Regions from separate parts of the Homo sapiens genome. Here all the other regions are linked to region 2. Evidence: fine-mapped expression QTL. A gene starts in region 2. Each other region holds a variant in brackets. All regions are shown on one strand. Distances are between the middles of the regions. Region 1 overlaps IFT88 (intraflagellar transport 88). Region 2 holds the start of IFT88 (intraflagellar transport 88). Region 3 overlaps IFT88 (intraflagellar transport 88).

What was found. PIP is the estimated chance that this variant, and not a neighbour inherited with it, causes the effect. A credible set is the group of variants that fine-mapping cannot tell apart.
Region 1: its variant is the best candidate, but not a certain one, in a credible set for the expression of IFT88 in blood mononuclear cells (TOPMed, PIP 0.54).
Region 3: its variant is the best candidate, but not a certain one, in a credible set for the expression of IFT88 in whole blood (INTERVAL, PIP 0.71).

The regions. Positions count from the first base shown.
Region 1 is chr13:20,677,537-20,682,536 of GRCh38, reverse strand. The region is part of intron 24 of IFT88 (intraflagellar transport 88); the gene reads right to left. Among named protein-coding and RNA genes, the nearest start is that of IL17D, 24 kb to the left of the region's middle. The variant C/T (reference allele first, on the strand shown) is at 2,484.
Region 2 is chr13:20,565,238-20,571,666 of GRCh38, reverse strand. IFT88 (intraflagellar transport 88) reads right to left here and starts at 4,510. Exons shown (of 26, transcript NM_006531.5): 1 at 4,411-4,510. It overlaps LOC105370103 (a long non-coding RNA gene), which reads left to right and starts at 4,638. Exons shown (of 6, transcript XR_941725.3): 1 at 4,638-4,991; 2 at 6,117-6,166. RefSeq lists silencers at 4,117-4,305, 4,401-4,810.
Region 3 is chr13:20,633,114-20,639,621 of GRCh38, reverse strand. IFT88 (intraflagellar transport 88) reads right to left here. Exons shown (of 26, transcript NM_006531.5): 17 at 1,104-1,290. Among named protein-coding and RNA genes, the nearest start is that of IL17D, 67 kb to the left of the region's middle. The variant T/C (reference allele first, on the strand shown) is at 3,875.

The DNA of each region.
Region 1 (5,000 bases), 110 kb before region 2:
GGATCAATTGAAAACACTGAATGACTTTCAAAAATTACCAGGGGACATTAATTGGATACAACCTGCTCTAGGCATTCCTACCTATGCCATGAGTAATCTATTTTCTATCCTTAGAGGAGATCCTAGTCTCACTAGCCCTTGTCAATTAACAAAGGAAGCTGAGGCAGATTTACAGCTGATTGAGAAGCAAGTGCATACAACTCAAATAAATAGAATAGATCCAACAAAGACTTTAGACTTGCTGATTTTTCCGACACAGCATTCACCTACTGGTGTTATTGTCCAAGAGCAGGACTTGGTAGAATGGCTTTTTCTTCCACATGCTAATTCACAGACTCTAATTCCTTATTTGGATCAAATTGCTACTCTGGTAGGAAATGGGAGAACCCAAACTGTTAAATTGCATGCATATGACCCTGGAAAAATTATTGTCCCTCTTACAAAAACACTAACACAACAGGACTTTATAAATAGTCTTGGCAAACCCATTTAGCTGATTTCGTAGGTGTTCTTGATAATCACTTTCCGAAAACAAAATTATTTCAACTTTTAAAATTAACTAATTGGATTCTCCCTGGAATAACTAAATCTAAACCAGCTGTAGGTGCTGAAAATGTTTTTACAGATGGGTCTAGTAATGGTAAAGCTTCTTATTCAAAACGTAAAGTTTTCCAGACGCCCTATACTTCAGCTCAAAAAGCGGAGCTTGTAGCTGTAATTGAGGTGCTGACTGCTTTTGAGATGCCTGCCAATGTAATTTCTGATTCTTCATATGTGGTTCATTCCACACAGTTAGTTGAAAATGCTCAGCTACAATTCCACACAGATGAACAACTGATGACTTTATTTACCCAATTACAAACCACAGTTAGGAACAGAATGCACTCTTTTTACATTACTCATATTGGAGCTCATACAACTCTTCCAGGACTTTTGACTCCAAGGAATCAAATGGCTGATTGCCTAGCTGCTACTGAAATATCTAACGCTAGACACTTTCACAATTTAACCCATGTTAATGCCTCTGGTCTCAAACGCAGATACAGCATTACCTGGAAAGAAGCTAAAGCTATTATCCAGCGATGCCCAACTTGTCAAATGGTGCATTCCTCATCTTTTACAGGAGAAGTTAATCCTCGAGGATCGGAACCTAATTCTCTTTGGCAAATGGGTGCCACCCATGTTCCCTCGTTTAGGAGACTAGCTTATGTGCATGTATGTGTAGATACATTTTTCTCACTTTGTTTGGGCTACCTGTCAAACAGGAGAATCTTCTGCCTGTATTAAACGGCATCTTCTGCAACGCTTCACGGTCATGTGCATTCCAGCTTCTGTTAAAACGGACAATGTCCCAGGCTATACTAGCCAAGCTCTAGCTACATTTTTCTCTATATGGAATATTAAACACATTACTGGCATCCCATATAATTCACAAGGACAAGCCATTGTGGAACGAATGAATCTCTCCCTAAAATGACAATTGCAAAAGCAGAAGGGGGAAACAGGGACAGTGATTATAGGACTCCACACATGCAACTGAATCTAGCATTACTGACTTTAAATTTTTTGAGCCTATCTAAAGGCCAGATGCTATCAGCAGCTGAACGGCATCTACCAAAACCAGCTGCAAAGATAGAAGCGGAACAACTGGTTTGGTGGAGAGATTCGATAACAACGAGTTGGGAAATAGGTAAAATAATAACATGGGGTAGAGGTTATGCTTGTGTTCTCCAGGCCAAAACCAGCAGCTGATTTGGATACCATCAAGATACCTGAAAACTTATCATCAGCCAGATGCCAAGGAAGAGATTTTGGGAGGAACCCGAGGACCCCCCGGTTGCAGCCATGTTGAGACTGACAATAAGGAAGACACAAGTGCTGGCGAGCAACACTGGTCGGGCACAGCCACCCCCCTGGGGCCAGATCAAGAAGTTGACACAGATGGCGGAAGAAAATCTGAAGAAGGCAGGACAACCAGTTACAATGAGTAATCTAATGGTAGCTATGATGGCTGTGCTCACCATCGCCATGAGTATTCCCCCAGTGACTGCTGAAACAAAAGACAATTATACTTATTGGGCATATATTCCTTTTCCACCACTTCTACAGCCAGAAACATGGTTAGACCCCCCAGTGGAGGTATACACTAACGAAAGTTTTTAGATGCCTAGTTCTATAGATGATAGAGGCCCGTCTAAGCCCTAAGAGGAAGGAACTATTATGAATATCTTGTTGGGATTTGAGGATTTACCTATTTGTTTGGGAAAAGCCAATAGGTGTTTAGCTCCCAGTCATCAATCCTGGCTGGCGATAGTGCCTGAATGTAACATCTCCATGACACAATTACATATGCTTTCTGGTCTTAGTATTTATCACAATTATTATGCTCCTGTAACCGAAGTTTACCACCCTCAAAAACCTATCTGTAAACTGGATTGGACATGGTCAGCAAAAATGAAGGTATTTGCTTGGGAAGATTGTGT[C/T]GCAAGGCAGGCAGAGGTGTTGTGTAATGATTCATATGGAGTCATTATTGATTGGTCCCCTAAAGGGGCATTTATGAGGCTCACCTCTCAATCTGTAGCTAATGGTCACCCTGCATATAAACAAAATAATCAGATGGTGGACACTATAAGAAGTACAGCAAGAGTTCCTATTATTTGGGCATATGGTGGTATAGTGGTACCTCAACCCCAAATGATATGACCTGATGTAAGAGCTAAACATAAGGAGTTATGGAAAATATTAATGGCACTGAAAAAGATAAAGATTTGGGAAGGAAAATATACTAAGCCAACCCAATATAATCCTAATTACATGTTAGAATTGGCTCACAACAGTTCAGTCTGGATACATAGTTGTGTCTGTCCGCCTTTCCTGTTTGTAGTGGGTGATTTAAAACTTGATCTCCCTAATCATCATATGACTTGTCAAGAATATAGATTGTTTTCTTGTGTGAATTCTTCCTTGTATAATACTGATCATTCTATTTTAGTAGTAAGAGCCCGAGAAGGCGTATGGATACCTGTAAAGCTTTCCCATCCTTGGGAAGCCTCTCCTTCTGCGCATATTATTACTGAAATTCTTCGATAGATTTTGAGGCACTCTCGGCGTTTAATTGCCACTTTAATTTTAATCATTACGGGATTGACTGCTGTCACAGCTACTGCCGTGGTAGCTGGAGTTGCTCTGCATTCCACAGTACAAACAGCAGACTATGTAAATAATTGGCAGAAAAATTCTACTCTGCTGTGGAATTCCCAAACTAATATAGACCAGAAACTAGCTAATCAAATCAATGATCTCCGACAAACTGTAATGTGGCTAGGAGATTGAGTAGTTAGTCTAAAATACAGAATGCAGTTACAATGTGATTGGAATACTTCTGATTTTTGCATTACTCCTCATCTGTATAATGAAACAGAGCACGAGTGGGAAAGAGTTAGGAGACATTTAAAGGGTCATACTGGAAATTTATCTTTAGATATTGTAAAACTGAAGAAACAAGTATTTCAAGCCTCTCAGGCACATCTGACGCTAATGCCAGGAACTGAAGTGCTTGAAGGAGCTGCAGATGGATTAGCAGCTATTAACCCATTAAAGTGGATCAAGACACTTGGAGGCTCTGTGATTTCAATGATGATTGTGCTTTTAATCTGTGTTGTCTGTCTTTGTGTAGTCTGCCGATGCAGATCCCAAATCTTGCGAGAAGTAGCCCACCGTGACAAAGCTGCCTTTGTCTTTATCGCTTTGCAAAAACGAAAAGGGAGACATGCTGGTAGCAAGCCCTAAGCCTGTCATAAACAGGCCTTAAAGAAACTGGTCATAAACAGGATTTCTGCAGCAATGTGACATGCTCGTGATGGCTATCACACACACTGCTAGAAGTTGTTGGTTCACACTGCTAGAAGTTGTTGGTTTACTGGAGCAGGGCAAGGAAAACCTGGCCCCTCCGGAGCGGAAAACTGCTCAAGCCACAAACAATAGCACGAGCAGCCTGTGCCTTAACAACATGCTTTTGCTGCAGATAATCAGCCAGGGCCTGTTTCTCTGCTCCTTGCTAAAAATGCTTTGTTTCCTATAAGGAATGCTTCTAGCTAATCTATAATCTATAGAAGCAATGCTTAGCACTGGCTTACTGTCAATAATATGTGGGTCAGACTCTGTTCATGGCTCTCAGCTCTGACGGCTGTCAGCCCCCTGGTCCCACTCTGCACCCTATTTCTGTGTCTGTGTCTTTAATTCCTCTAGCACTGCTGGGTTAGGGTCTCCATAACTGAGCTGGTCTTGGCAAGTATGCATTGTTTTAGTTATTGGTGAGGCTGTATATTTCACCACCATGTGTGAGAGAATAGTTTATATCCTCTTCTCTACCTCCCTGCAACTCATTCACTTCTTAAATCATTAGAATCTGACTTTTACCTCTAACAGTACACTGAGACTGCTTTCTTTAAGGCTATCAAAACTATCTTAGTTGAAAAATCTAATGGCCCTCTGTAGTCTTCAAGGCCCAATTATAATACGTATATAATCATTTTTCAACATTCCCCTTCCCTTAAGCTAGGAAGTCTATCAACTGCCCCTATTAGTTTCTTATTTTTTGAAAGTACTATCTAAAATGAAACTTTCTAAAAAATTCTGCCCATTCCTTTGAATGTGTTATGAATATAGTGGTTCTTACTTTTTCAAATCTCTTCTTAAATAACTCTCTTTTGGTGAGCTATAAATTGATTTCATTATCCATTAGACACTTTGTAAAAGCTTTTTGGTCTGTCTCTCTCTTCTATTTTTAAGAAGATGATATTCAATTTAGCCTCTATTAAGATGCAATAATTAAGATCTATTCTCACTCCTTAAGTATGAGGAAGTATTTGTTTATATCTAGAAACACTGAAGAGCATCAGACAATAACTTTGGGACCTTTAGGAGGCCTTTACTGACCAATTTACTTCTAGGTGCTCTGTAATCTGACTTGCAAATGGCCTATCCTCTTATTACCAGGA
Region 2 (6,429 bases):
GTTCTTTGGACATACCAAAGACCACCTGGTCCTCAAACTGCAATTCTTTCTTCCCAAATAAAAATGTAAAATTTCAAGATTCATCTCTACATTTTGACTTGGACAGAAGCATGGGAGAAATGAAATTACCATATAGATATACTGTAAATCTAATAATTACTAAAGAATCTGGCAAGGATTCCTGGAAGTATCATTCAAATCAAGTCAATATTTTAGGCAATTTGAGGGGTGGGAGGTGGAGGAAGGCTAATTACCCAAGAAATGTAGTATTGCTAGTATTCAAGAAATGTATTTTCTTTAAAGCAAATACATATTTTCTTAAGGCCTGTACATTTTAAGTGCACCAGCAAATTCCTAAGAAATTTTCAGCTTAGGCTGGGCGCAGTGGCTCACGCCTATAATCCCAGCACTTTGGGAGGCCGAGGCAGGCAGATCACGAGGTCAGGAGATCGAGACCATCCTGGCTAATATGGTGAAACCCCGTCTCTACTAAAAATACAAAAAAATTAGCCGGGCATGATAGCAGGCACCTGTAATCCCAGGTACTCAGGAGGCTGAGGCAGGAGAATGGCCTGAACCTGGGAGGCGGAGGTTGCAGTGGGCCGAGATTGTGCCACCACACCCCTGCCTAGGCGACAGAGCCAGACTCTGTCTCAAAAAATAAATAAATAATAAAAATAAATAAATAAAAAATAAATTTTCAGCTTAATCTTTTTCTCAGCATAATACCACATATATGTGGCTTCTCATAACCTTTAAAAATTATTTATATATTTTAAATACTAACAAAATTATTAGTTTTTGAACTATAATTCATATACCATACAATTTAACTTTTCAAGGTGCAGTGGTTTTTAGTATATTCACAAGGTTGTGCAACCATCCCCAGTATGTAATTCCAGAACACTTTCATCATCCCATAAAGAAATATGGGGCCTGTTAGCAGCTCTCCATGCCTCCCTTCCCTTTCCCCAGTCCCTGGCAACCATTTTCTGTCTCTATGGATTTGCCAATTCTGGACATTTCATATTAAGGAAATTACACAATATGTAGCCTTTTGTGTCTGGTCTCTTTCACTTAGCATAATGCTTCCAAGGTTCATCCACGCAGTAGTATGTATCAATATTTCATTACTTTTTATGGCTAAATACATCTGCAACATTTTGCTTATCCATTCATTAGTTAATGGACATTTGAATTGTTTCCACTTTTTGACTTTTATGAATAACATCACTATGAATGTGTGTGTACAAGTTTTAGCATGCATATATAGGTCCAATTCTATTGGGAATATATCTAGTAAAGGAATTGCTGGATCATATAGTAACTCTATGTTTAACTTTTGGAGGAACAGCTAGACTGTTTTCCAAAGTGGCTGCACTATTTTACATCCCACCTGCAATGCATGAAGTTTCCAATTTATCCATGTCCTAGCCAACATCTGTTACTGTTCCTGTTTTTGATTATTGCAATTCTAGTGAGTATGAAATGGTATCTCATTGTAGTATTGACTTGCATTCCCCTGATGACTAATGATGTTGAGTATCTTTTCATCTGCTTATTATCCATTTCTATATCTCTTTGGAGAAATGTCTGTTCAGATCTTTTGCTCATTTTTTTTTTTTTTTGAGACGGAATCTTGCTCTGTCGCCTAGGCTAGAGGGCAGTGGCGCGGCTCACTGCAAGCTCCGCCTCCCAGTTTCACGCCATTCTCCTGCCTCAGCCTCTCGAGTAGCTGGGACTACAGGCACCCGCCACCAAGCCCGGCTAATTTTTTTATTTTTATTTTTATTTTTATTTTTAGTAGAGATGGGGTTTCACCGTATTAGCCGGTATGGTCTCGATCTCCTGACCTTGTGATCCGCCCACCTCGGCCTCCCAGAGTGCTGGGATTACAGGCGTGAACCACCGCGCCCGGCCAGCTCATTCCCAAAAATCAGGTTATCACATGAATTATAAGGATCCTGTATATATTCCTGATACTAAACATTATATAAATGATTTACAAATACTTTCTCCCATTCTGTACATCATTTTACATTCTTTGTACTATCCTCTGAAGCACAAAAGTTTAAAAAAATTTTTTTTTTTTTTGGGACGGAGTCTCGCTCTGTCACCCAGGCTGGAGTGCAGTGGCGCGATCTCGGCTCACTGAAAGCTCCGCCTCCCGAGTTCACGCCATTCTCCTGCCTCAGCCTCTCCAGCAGCTGGGACTACAGGCGCCCGCCACCACGCCCGGCTAATTTTTTGTATTTTTAGTAGAGACGGGGTTTCACCGTGTTAGCCAGGATGGTCTCGATCTCCTGACCTCGTGATCCGCCCGGCTCGGCCTCCCAAAGTGCTGGGATTACAGGCGTGAGCCACCACGCCTGGCCAAAAGTTTTAAATTTTGATGATATACAATTTATTTTTCCTTTGGTTGCACGTACTTTTGGTATCATATCTAAGAAAGAACTGCCTAATCTAAGGTCAAGAATATTTATACCTATGCTTTTTTTCTAACAGTTTTAGCTCTTATATTTAGGTCATTGATCCATTTTGAGTTAATTTCTCATTACTTTTTGAAGATGAAAATTAACTACTATGAGGGCAAATGTCACCCACATAGAAATGGCATTCCAAAATAGCTTCAAAAGGTTATTAAAAGGGCCAGGCGTCGTGGCTCACGCTTGTAATCCCAACACTCTGGGAGGCCGAGGCGGGCGGATCACGAGGTCAGGAGATCGAGACCATCCTGGCTAACACGGTGAAACCCCGTCTCTACTAAAAATACAAAAAATTAGCTGGGCATGGTGGCGGGCGCCTGTAGTCCCAGCTACTCGGGAGGCTGAGGCAGGAGAATGGCATGAACCCGGGAGGCGGAGCTTGCAGTAAACCGAGATTGCCGCCACTGCACTCCAGCCTGGGCAACAGAGCGTGCGACTCCGTCTCAAAAAGAAAAAAAAAGGTATTAAAAGTCACTGGTAAAAGATATATAAAATATTTTTAATTAAAAGCTTTAGCTCAGATAATACTAAACCAGTGGTTCTTAAACCCAAGTGATGCTGAGGCTACTGGTCTGGGGACCACTTTGAGAACCACTATTCTGAACCATAATTTCTGATTATGAACCCTATTTAAGTCAGCTTAGTTGACACATAAGTTATAGAAGGAAGCAACTTTTAGAATGAGAAATCCTTTCTGCTAGGTTGTAACCAGATTTTTAAAAGGTTTGACTTGAGACTTTAGTTGAATAGACATCTTGTGGAACATACAAATATTAAAAGATGTGGAAAGTGAGGCCAGGAAAGTTGAAGGGAATCAAGCATGGCTAATAGCTATGGGTGGCAGAACAACTGTTGTTATACAACCCAGGGTTTCTGGATTCTCCAGGCAATTTCCAAAGCAGCTTATACATGTAACAAACTTTTCCATGTTGAAATAATCTGGGGATGATGCCACCTATGTTTAATATAAATCAAATGCTGGCAAAACCTTTTTTTTTTTTAAGTGAAAGGTATGTTTTTTAATACTCTTCTACTGACTATGGACAGTCTACTTCAAGCTTTTCCAACCCCGGCCCGCACGTGGCACAGGACGGCTTTGAATGTGGCCCAACACAAATTCGTAAACTTTCTGGAAGCATTATGAGATTCTTTTTTGCGATTTTTTTTAAAGCTCATCGGCTACCTTAGTGTTTGTGAATTTCATGTGTGGCCCAAGACAATTCTTCTTCCGATGTGGCCCAGGGAAGCCAAAGATTGGACACCCTTGGTCTACTTCCAAGAAGCCTACTGCAGTTTCTCGAAAAAAAAAAAACAAACAAAAAAAACTCACAACCAGAAAATCGGACTAGTAAAAGTGTAATTTTAGGCTTAGAAAGAATCTTGGGACAACAGTACTTCACGTTTTTGGAATGTTTCCATCTTTGTGAGGCTAAGTACCGCTTTCTGCATTGTTGTGTACTTTTATCTTCATTCCTGATTCAACTTTCATCAGGCAATTTGAAGTGCTTCACCTAACAAGAAAATTAAAGAGCGATGTGCACCATCTCTGCTGTGCGATTCCAGAGCTGGCGCAGTAATCTAACTGGGTTTTAAGTTTCCCCGTCAGGCGTGACTGGGACTTGGGACATCGCCAAGCGGTCAGCGACGCCCGTCCCAGTTCAGAGGAGCAAGAAAAGCCTGTGAGCTGGGGACACCGATGTGAGAAACAACGCCCGCGTTTCTGAGTAGACAACTCGGGAGCCTGAGGAAGAAAAGCAGGGGCAGGCCGAGTCCATCTGGGGCCCCGCCTCAGACCGCCCCGGGGCCGACAGGGGCGGGCAGGAGACGGGCGAAGAGGCCCTCGGCGGGATGCGCCACACAGGACGCCGCAGGGGCACGGCTGCCAGGGGCCCTGAGGCACTAGGCCCCAGCGCCCTTCTCCTACCTCACGCTGAGGGAAGCGGGCGACAGTTATTCGGGCCCAGGGACGACGCAGCGGTTGGCCAAAGCGCGACGCCGAGCCGTTGCCAAGCGCGGAATCCAAGGAAGCCGCTCCCACAGTCCTCCGCGCGGGGGCGGGCGGGGCCGGAAGCGCGGGGGCGGGAGAGAGCGCGGCGGGAAGGGGGTGGTGCGGGAGGCCTGGGGAAGTGGGTGGGGGCGGAGAACGGCGGGTCAGAGAGAAGGCAGCCCGGTCCCCCTCAGTGGAAGGGAGTGGCGGTGGGCGGAGGGTGTTGAGGGGACGGTGCCAGCGGCTTGCGGGAAGCCGGGCGATGCGGGTAGAACGGTGGAGGAGAGGGCAGGGAGGCCGGGGCCTCCCGTGGAACGGAACCGGGGGGTTGGGAGGCTGGGGGCGGCCTGTGTGAAGGGGGCGGGGAGGGAAAGGCTCGCGGCCAGTAGATGCAGGAGGGAGGAGGGCCTAGAGGGGCTCCGGGCTGGCGGCCTCTGTGAGGAAGGGGAAGGATATGGAACCAAGATCCTTTAAATCCTGATGAACTCATCCGTAAAGCAGATGCCCAAAGGATGATAGTAAGCTTACTGTGACATAACTCCCGGAGCCGCAGCACGAGCCTTGTGAACCTTGGAAGCCCGTTTTCCGCGCAGTCACTAACTCGCTTAGTCACCCTGTGTAAAAGTTATTCTGGGATGACACCTGCCTGGGAAGTCTCACCTTTCCCCCCACCTCCTCCTGTCTGCGTATTGTTCTGTAGCACCCCGTGCGCACCTTGATTGTAGCGCTTAAGGTGTCCGTTTTATTTACTAGACAGGGATTGAACCATTGTGTCCCAACCACCTAGAACCTGGGTCATAGTGTAAAGCTTAATCAATGTAATATAAATGGGGGAATTAAATTCATAATTGTTTAATGTTTAAGTTTTGTCTTAAATTTTAAAAGTAAATGTTGGGGATGGAGGGGAGGGACAGAGGGAGTCTAAAGACACCAGTAATTAATGAGTTTTTATAAAATAAGTAGTGTTGGCCGGGCGCAGTGGCTCATGCCTATAATCCCAGCACTTTGGGAGGCTGAGGCTGGCGGATCACCTGAGGTGAGGAGTTGGAGACCAGCCTGGCCAACGTGGTGAAACCCTGTCTCTACTAAAAATACAAAAATTAGCCCGGCGAGGTGGCAGGCGCCTGTAATAAATCCCAGCTACTCAGGAGGCTAAGGCAGGAGAATCTCTTGAACCCAGGAGGTAGAGGTTGCAGTGAGCCAAGATGGTGGTATTGCACTCCAGCCTGGGTGACAAGAGCGAAACTCCATCCAAAAAAAGAAAAAACATAGTGTTGGGGGACAATTCTCCATGGGTCACCTGCACTTTCCCGTGTTTTGTGAGCAGAGACACTGACTGCCTTTGTTCTGGAGTACTATGATAGCTGGTATTTTTTAAGATGTGATTAACAGTTAAATTAGACTTGAGTAAAGCAGTTGGTCCTCCACAAGGTGGGTTGGCCTCATCCCGTCAAGGGAAGGTCATAAGAGAAAAGACTAAGGTCCTCTGAGGAAGAAGGAATCCTGCCCCCAGACTGCCTTCAGCTCTTTCCTGGGTCTCTAACTTGACCTACAAATTTTAGGCTTGCCAGCATTATAAATAAAGTTTTGGTGCCGCAAAAGAAATAGCACTCAACTATAAAATTTTCTTTTTTCCTTCTCAGCAAGGCAATTTACTTCTATAGAAGGGTGCGCCCTCACAGATGGAGCAATGGTGAGCACACACCTGGACAAGGGAGGCGAAGGGGTTTTTATTCCTGACGCTTGTGGCACCTGCTGCTGTGTCCTTCCCCTGTTGGCTAAGGTTAGACGGCACAGGCTAAACTAATTCTGATTGACTAATTTAAAGAGAGTGACCGGGTAAGTGGTTTGGTGGGAAAAATAGTTATGGCAGAGCAGGAAATCGGAATGAGTCAGGGTGGAGAATGAGTCAGGGCAGAGCAGGTAATCAGAATGAGTCAGGGTGGAGCAGGTAGT
Region 3 (6,508 bases), 68 kb before region 2:
TCTTCAATGCTCTCTTCCCAGATACCCAAGTGGTCATAGCCTCCCTTCCTTCTATGACTTGAAACATACATTCTCAATGAGGCTCTCCCAGACTCCACCTAAAATGGCTAATTCCTTCTTGCCTCCCCTATTCTTCAAGGTTGGCAGTAGGCCTTCCCTCCTCCTTCAGGCAGGAGATTAAAGAGTCTTTTCTGGGAGGAAAGATCCAATTGACTTATGGACAGGTCTCCAACTAAACAGACCAGACCAGACAGATGCCCTATAGCAGAGTGCCAACCCATCAATCTCTCTCATGGACTTAGAGACTCCACTCAGTTTTTAGCCACAAACTCCTGAATACCAGGAGACAGCCCAAAATCATTAGACATCTAAGTAAAGTCCATAACATGGAAAAGAGAATAAAATAAGCAAACCAAAGAAAGCAAAAAATACCTAGGCAGGGAGAAGAAAACTTCAGAAGAAAAGTTATTAATAATCCAAGAGACAAGACCCAGTACTGCATGGACATGTGTTTGCAATACTGAAAATTCATGCCCAGGGGTGATGATGCCCATTTCAGGCAACCGCTGAAAGGCAGGGAAGAGAATGTGATGGTGGTGAGACTTCATGGCTTGTAGTATTTGGCTTATTAAAAACAAAATCTGAAGTAAAGATGGCAAAATGTGAAAATGTGTCAAACTGGGGTGATAGGTACATGGGTACTTATTTCTTGTGTGTACTTTTGTGCATGTTTGAAATTGTTCATAATTAAAAAGAAAGCAAATGGGATTTTTTCCCATCTATGAACTTGGCAAAAGTTAAAAAGAATGATAATATCCAGTATTAGCAGAAATTTGGGAAATTAGTATTATACACTGTGATGGAAAAGCCTTTTTGGAGGGCAGTATGGCAAGCCTGATCCAAATTTTGCATGTGCATAGCTTCTGAATCATTAATTCCATTTAAAATAATCTATAATCTGAGAGGCAGTAGTCTTCAATTTTCCGTTAGAAGGAAGTCAACTCCTCCTCCTAATGTGTTAGAGCTCTTTAAGCAAAACAAAACAAAAACAAATACAAAGCAAATAAATAATTTAAAAAGCAATTTCCCCTTGTTTCACTTACCAATATTATAAAGTGCTTCAGTACAAGAAGAATCATTTCTTAGAGCCTCTTTATAGAATTCAGCGGCCTTCTCATAATCACCATTTGCAAAAACTGTATTCCCTTTATTAGTAAGAGCTGCTGGATTATATCTATCAGAGTTCACAGCTATATCTGCATAGCTGCTGGCTTGTGCAAAATCCTTTCCCTAAGTAAAATACATATACAAATTATTTGAATTTCATGAAATACCTTTTCTGACTGTTCTGAGATTACAGACATAATAAATAGACTTTCTGAGATTATAAATGTAATGAACAAAAATATTTTACATATCTTGGTCTTGATAGTCTGATTCTACATAGAGTTTTACTTATCAGGCTGAACCACCCAAGTTTCTTGTGATTGACTTCTCCACAGTCTCATGGTTAGAATAACAACACTATTTATATGTAGGTGGTTCCATACTCAACGCCCAAATTGCATGTCATCATTTGCTGCAGCACTCCCCCTCCCACTTGAAGCCCTGAAATAGCTGTCACAAAAGCACTACCCTTCTTGCCCCTAGCACACTGGCTGCGTCACCTACTAGGTCTCTGCACTTCTAGCAATCCATTGTTTTTTTCCGTCTCCATGCCAAATGCTCGGTCAGGGCCTTGCCATCATTCACGTGAGCTACAGGAACCTCTCTGTTCTTAAATATTGTGACCATCTGTGCCAGGTCAGCTTGGTTAAGCCAGGAACTACATTTCCAAGAAGCTCCTTCACTATTAGCCTCTTGTCTAGACTTGGCCAAAAGAGGAACTTGTGTGACATCTGGAATGCAGACCTGAAGCAGTGGCCTTTAGTCTCAGAAAGCCTTTTTCTTGTCATCAGATGCAGGTCTGACACAGAAGTGTCCATGGGTACCAGCTTCTCCTCACTTACTCCACTCCAAGGGCAGCTCTTCTTCCTGACTATGCTGTCCCTGCTCCAAGATAGGGTTTGGCTGTGGTCCCCAGAGGAGGCAGCTGCACAGAGGCATCTGCTTCCCACAGAACTCCCCATGAAGGCCCTCTGGGTTCTACTGTGGCAGCTAGATATGTGTGGCCACTCACTGACTGATGGTTACTCCTCCTCAGATCTCCAGCTCCCCTTCTGCACCTTCACCGCCATGGCTCCTTCACAACTGTATAACATTAAATTCCCATGCCCCTTTTCCCATAACACTCACAGTGACCGTCCCTCGTTAAACTTTTTAAAAAGTTTAGATATAACTTATATATAATAAACCTGACCCCTTTAAAATGTAGAATTCTGTGGCATTTAGTAGGTTCACAAAGTTGTGCAACCATTGCCAATATCTACTTCCACCCTCAAAAGAAACCCTGTACCCATCAATAGTCACTTCCCATCCTCCTCTTCCCCCAGCCCCTGGCAACCACTAATCTGTTTTCTGTCTCCTTGCCTATTCTGGACACTGAATATAAATAGAATCATAAAATATGCAGTCTTTTGTGTCTGACTTCTTTCACTTAGCATAATATTTTTAAGGTTCGTCCATGTTTTAGCATGCATCTGTGCTGCAATCCTTTTAAAGGCTGAATAATGTCCCGCTGTATGGGTAGACCACATTTCATTTATCCATTCATTGTTGATGGACACTTGGGTTGCTTCCAGGCACCTTTATGGTTACTATGAATAATGCTGCCATGAACATTCATGTGCAAGTTTTTATGTGAACTCTGAAACAAAAATTGGTACCGACAAGTGAGGTGCTGCTGCTTAAAAACTAAAACATGTAACATTGTCTTTTGGACTACGTAGCAGGCAAAACTGAGAAAAGCTGTGAGGGCCTGTGTTGGGGACTGGAGAGATGGTGAAGCATGAGTGAGCCTGCAAAGGCAGAAGGAATCATCAGAGGCTGGATAAAGTGCAAACCACACTGTCACCATGAAGCACTGACACAAGTGGCACCCACAGAGTGGGATGGAGGATAGGAAGTGCACCTCATAAATATGCAACATGTGGCCAAGGGGATTTCTAGGTAGGATGCTGAAGGGCCAATGAACTTATTTTAACTGGGTATGATTGATCAGGTATAGGAAGAGAAAAATGAGCTAAGGAGAGAACTGTTTAGTTTGCAGGTAGAATTTAGAGAAAATATAGAAGAACCAGGACTTGCTAAGGTAGAAAATAAAATTACTTCATGTCTCCAGTTTCTTGTGGTGGCACAAGATTCTCAGATGGTGGCAGGTTAGGGAACAATTCAAAGGTGTGGCTGTAACACCTTTTGTAAACATCTCACAAAGATTTAAGGTCATACCTAGCAGACCTTCTCTCCCAGGTAGCGAAGTGGGCTTCTAAGACACTTCAAGGCTCTGTTCCATAGCAGCCTACACACCTAGTGGGAAGGGGTCTGTCCTGAAAAGAATTATGGATGCAGCTGTTGAGACATGTGGGAAAGCCCAACAAGATTTAGAGAAAACCCTCCAAGTTTTTAGGGGAGTTGTGCTGACTGTTGCTAGTTTGGATTAAAGGGACAGATATAGTCCAAAATGAAAAAAGCCCTCTATGCCCCAAATGTCTCAGGGCAGAACACAGGCTGAGAAAGTTAATCAGCTGCAAACACAGGCTATTTCTTTCCTTTTTTTTTTATTTTTTACTTTAGGTTAAAAACAAACATGGGATACATGTGCAGAATGTGCAGGTTTGTTACATAGGTATACACGTCCCATGGTGGTTTGCTGGACCTATCAACCTGTCATCTAGGTTTTAAGCCCTGTATGCATTAGGTATTGGTCCTAATGCTC[T/C]CCCTTCCCTTGCCTTCCACTCCCCGACAGGCCCCGGTGTATGATGCTCTCCTCCCTGTGTCCATGTGTTCTCATTGTTCAACTCTCACTTATGAATGAGAACATGCGGTGTTTGGTTTTCTGTTCCTGAAACATAGGCTATTTCTTATACAAAAGGAAGATGCTCTCAGAAGGCCGAGCCAAGAGCCACAGAGGACAAAGAATTAGGGGGCCACTCCGAGGGAGCAGAGCTGGGCCCTAATCAAGGAATATTCGTTTTTCTCAGACTAGGGAGCACTGGCCACACCTGCTTTGCTAGGTTTCAGAATCATTAAGGATAGTGACTGTGATGTGCCTCCATCCCTCCCCTTGGGGATGAGTGTCTTACAGTTATCCTGTCTTTATATCTCCATGGTATGTTGCATGTATGATGGGACAGGTGCCATGTCTTTTCATTCAGAAATTTTTGGATCCAAGTCCTTGCTATTGTGAATAGTGCCACAATAAACATATGTGTGCATGTGTCTTTTGCAGCATGTTTTATAATCCTTTGGAACAAATGTCCAACAATGATAGAATGGATTAAGAAAATGTGGCACATACACACCATGGAATACTATGCAGCCATAAAAAATGATGAATTCATGTCCTTTGTAGGGACATGGATGAAGCTGGAAACCATCATTCTCAGCAAACTATTGCCAGGACAAAAAACCAAACACTGCATGTTCTCACTCATAGGTGGGAATTGAACAATGAGAACACATGGACACAGGAAGGCGAACATCACACACCGGGGCCTGTTGTGGGGTGGGGGGAGGGGGGAGGGATAGCATTAGGACATATACCTAATGTTAAATGAAGAGTTAACAGGTGCAGCACACCAACATGGCACATGTATACATATGTAACAAACCTGCACGTTGTACACATGTACCCTAAAACTTAAAGTATAAAAAAAAAAAATAAAGAAATCTTTGGATCAAGAAGAAATTGTTCCTGAGAAAGCTCCATTTCTTCTTTTTTTTTTTTTGTTTGTTTGAGATGGAGTCTCGTTCTGTCGCCCAGGCTGGAATGCAGTGGCACGATCTTGGCTCACTGCAACCTCTGCCCTCCCAAGTTCAAGCAATTCTCATGCCTCAGCCTCCCGAGTAGCTGGGACTACAGGTATGCACCACCATGCCTGGCTAATTTTTTATATTTTTGGTAGAGACGGGGTTTCACCATGTTTAGTAGAGACGAGGTTTCACCATGTTGGCTAGGCTTGAACTCCTGGCCTCAAGTGATCCACCTGCCTCAGCCTCCCAAAGTGCTGGGATTACAGGCATGAGCCACCATACCCAGCTAGAAAGCCCCATTTCTATCCAGACCTGATGTAGATCCTGGCCTTTGAGCCTGATGCTGTGGTGGAATGAGACTCAGAGTCTTGGGAGGGATATGAATAACTGGGGTCTCAGTGCAGGCAGTGGTAGATTATTACAATAATGACTCCAGTGGATCACACCTCCCAGGATTCACGTACGACTCATTCAGGTATGATTCTCTCTCATGTTTGTTTTGTTCAACAAAATAATAACAAACTCAATGCGCACAAGAACCTAATACTCACCTGTGTACTGGGGTTTGCTCTCATGGAACCCAGTCCCACCTGAGAAGGCTGGGATCCCCTGCTGGGGATGCTCTGAGGGAAGACTGAGTTGCCCTGGACAACAGTTCAGCTAAGTGACAGGCATGAGGTAGGAATTTGGAACATCCAGTCTCAGTCATGCCTCAGAGGATGTCAGCTGCATGAGTAAGGCCAGGCAAGCCCAGTAAAAGAAGCATCCAGGTGAACCCAGCTCACTGGGTAGAATGTAAGCATATACCTGGTGATTTCAAGCCACTACGGTTTGGGGCAGTTCATTACACAGCAAGAGAAAACAGATACAACTATATGCCGGATACCAGCAATATATTTTCAACTACATATCATATAAAACTACATAGCAGACTCATCACTTGGCCTCAAAACATTCTTGATTACAACCATTTTCTTCAGAACCAAGTATAAGAAATTGCTGATGAGATGCTCTAATAGCTCTGCTTGGTTGATTAAATCTAACAATTCTCTTTGCTTCTTTAAATTTTCTATTGGTCTCCTCCTGCACAGTCGTCAAACTTGGTATAAAGATTTGGTGACGAATTGGGTCAAAAAATTCATTAGTGATTTTCTAAATTCAAAATTTAATGGCCATGATAGACACCATGCTTCACGCCATGGACTTGCCCGTCAGAGGTGCTGGAGGTGCTACTGGCCACCAGCCTCAGCAGGCAGCCCTCTCTGGAAACTGGGTGGAAGACAGAGGCACCTTGTCCCCCTTCCTAGAGGTGACCCTTTTTTGGGAGGCAGGCCACATCCAATGGCTGGCTGGGGTGGGGGTACAAAGGCCCACCCTCTCTCTTTTCCTGCCTCCTTGTGAAGAAGGTGCTTGCTTCTCCTTCACCTTCTGCTATGATTATAAGTTTCCTGAGGTTTCCCTAGCCATACAAAAATGTGAGTCAATTAAACCTCTTTCCTTGATAAATTACCCAGTCTCGGTTATTTCTTTATAGCAGTGTGAGAACGGACTAATACACCTTCTGTCTACTTGCTTCCATCATTACAAAAAATGTTTA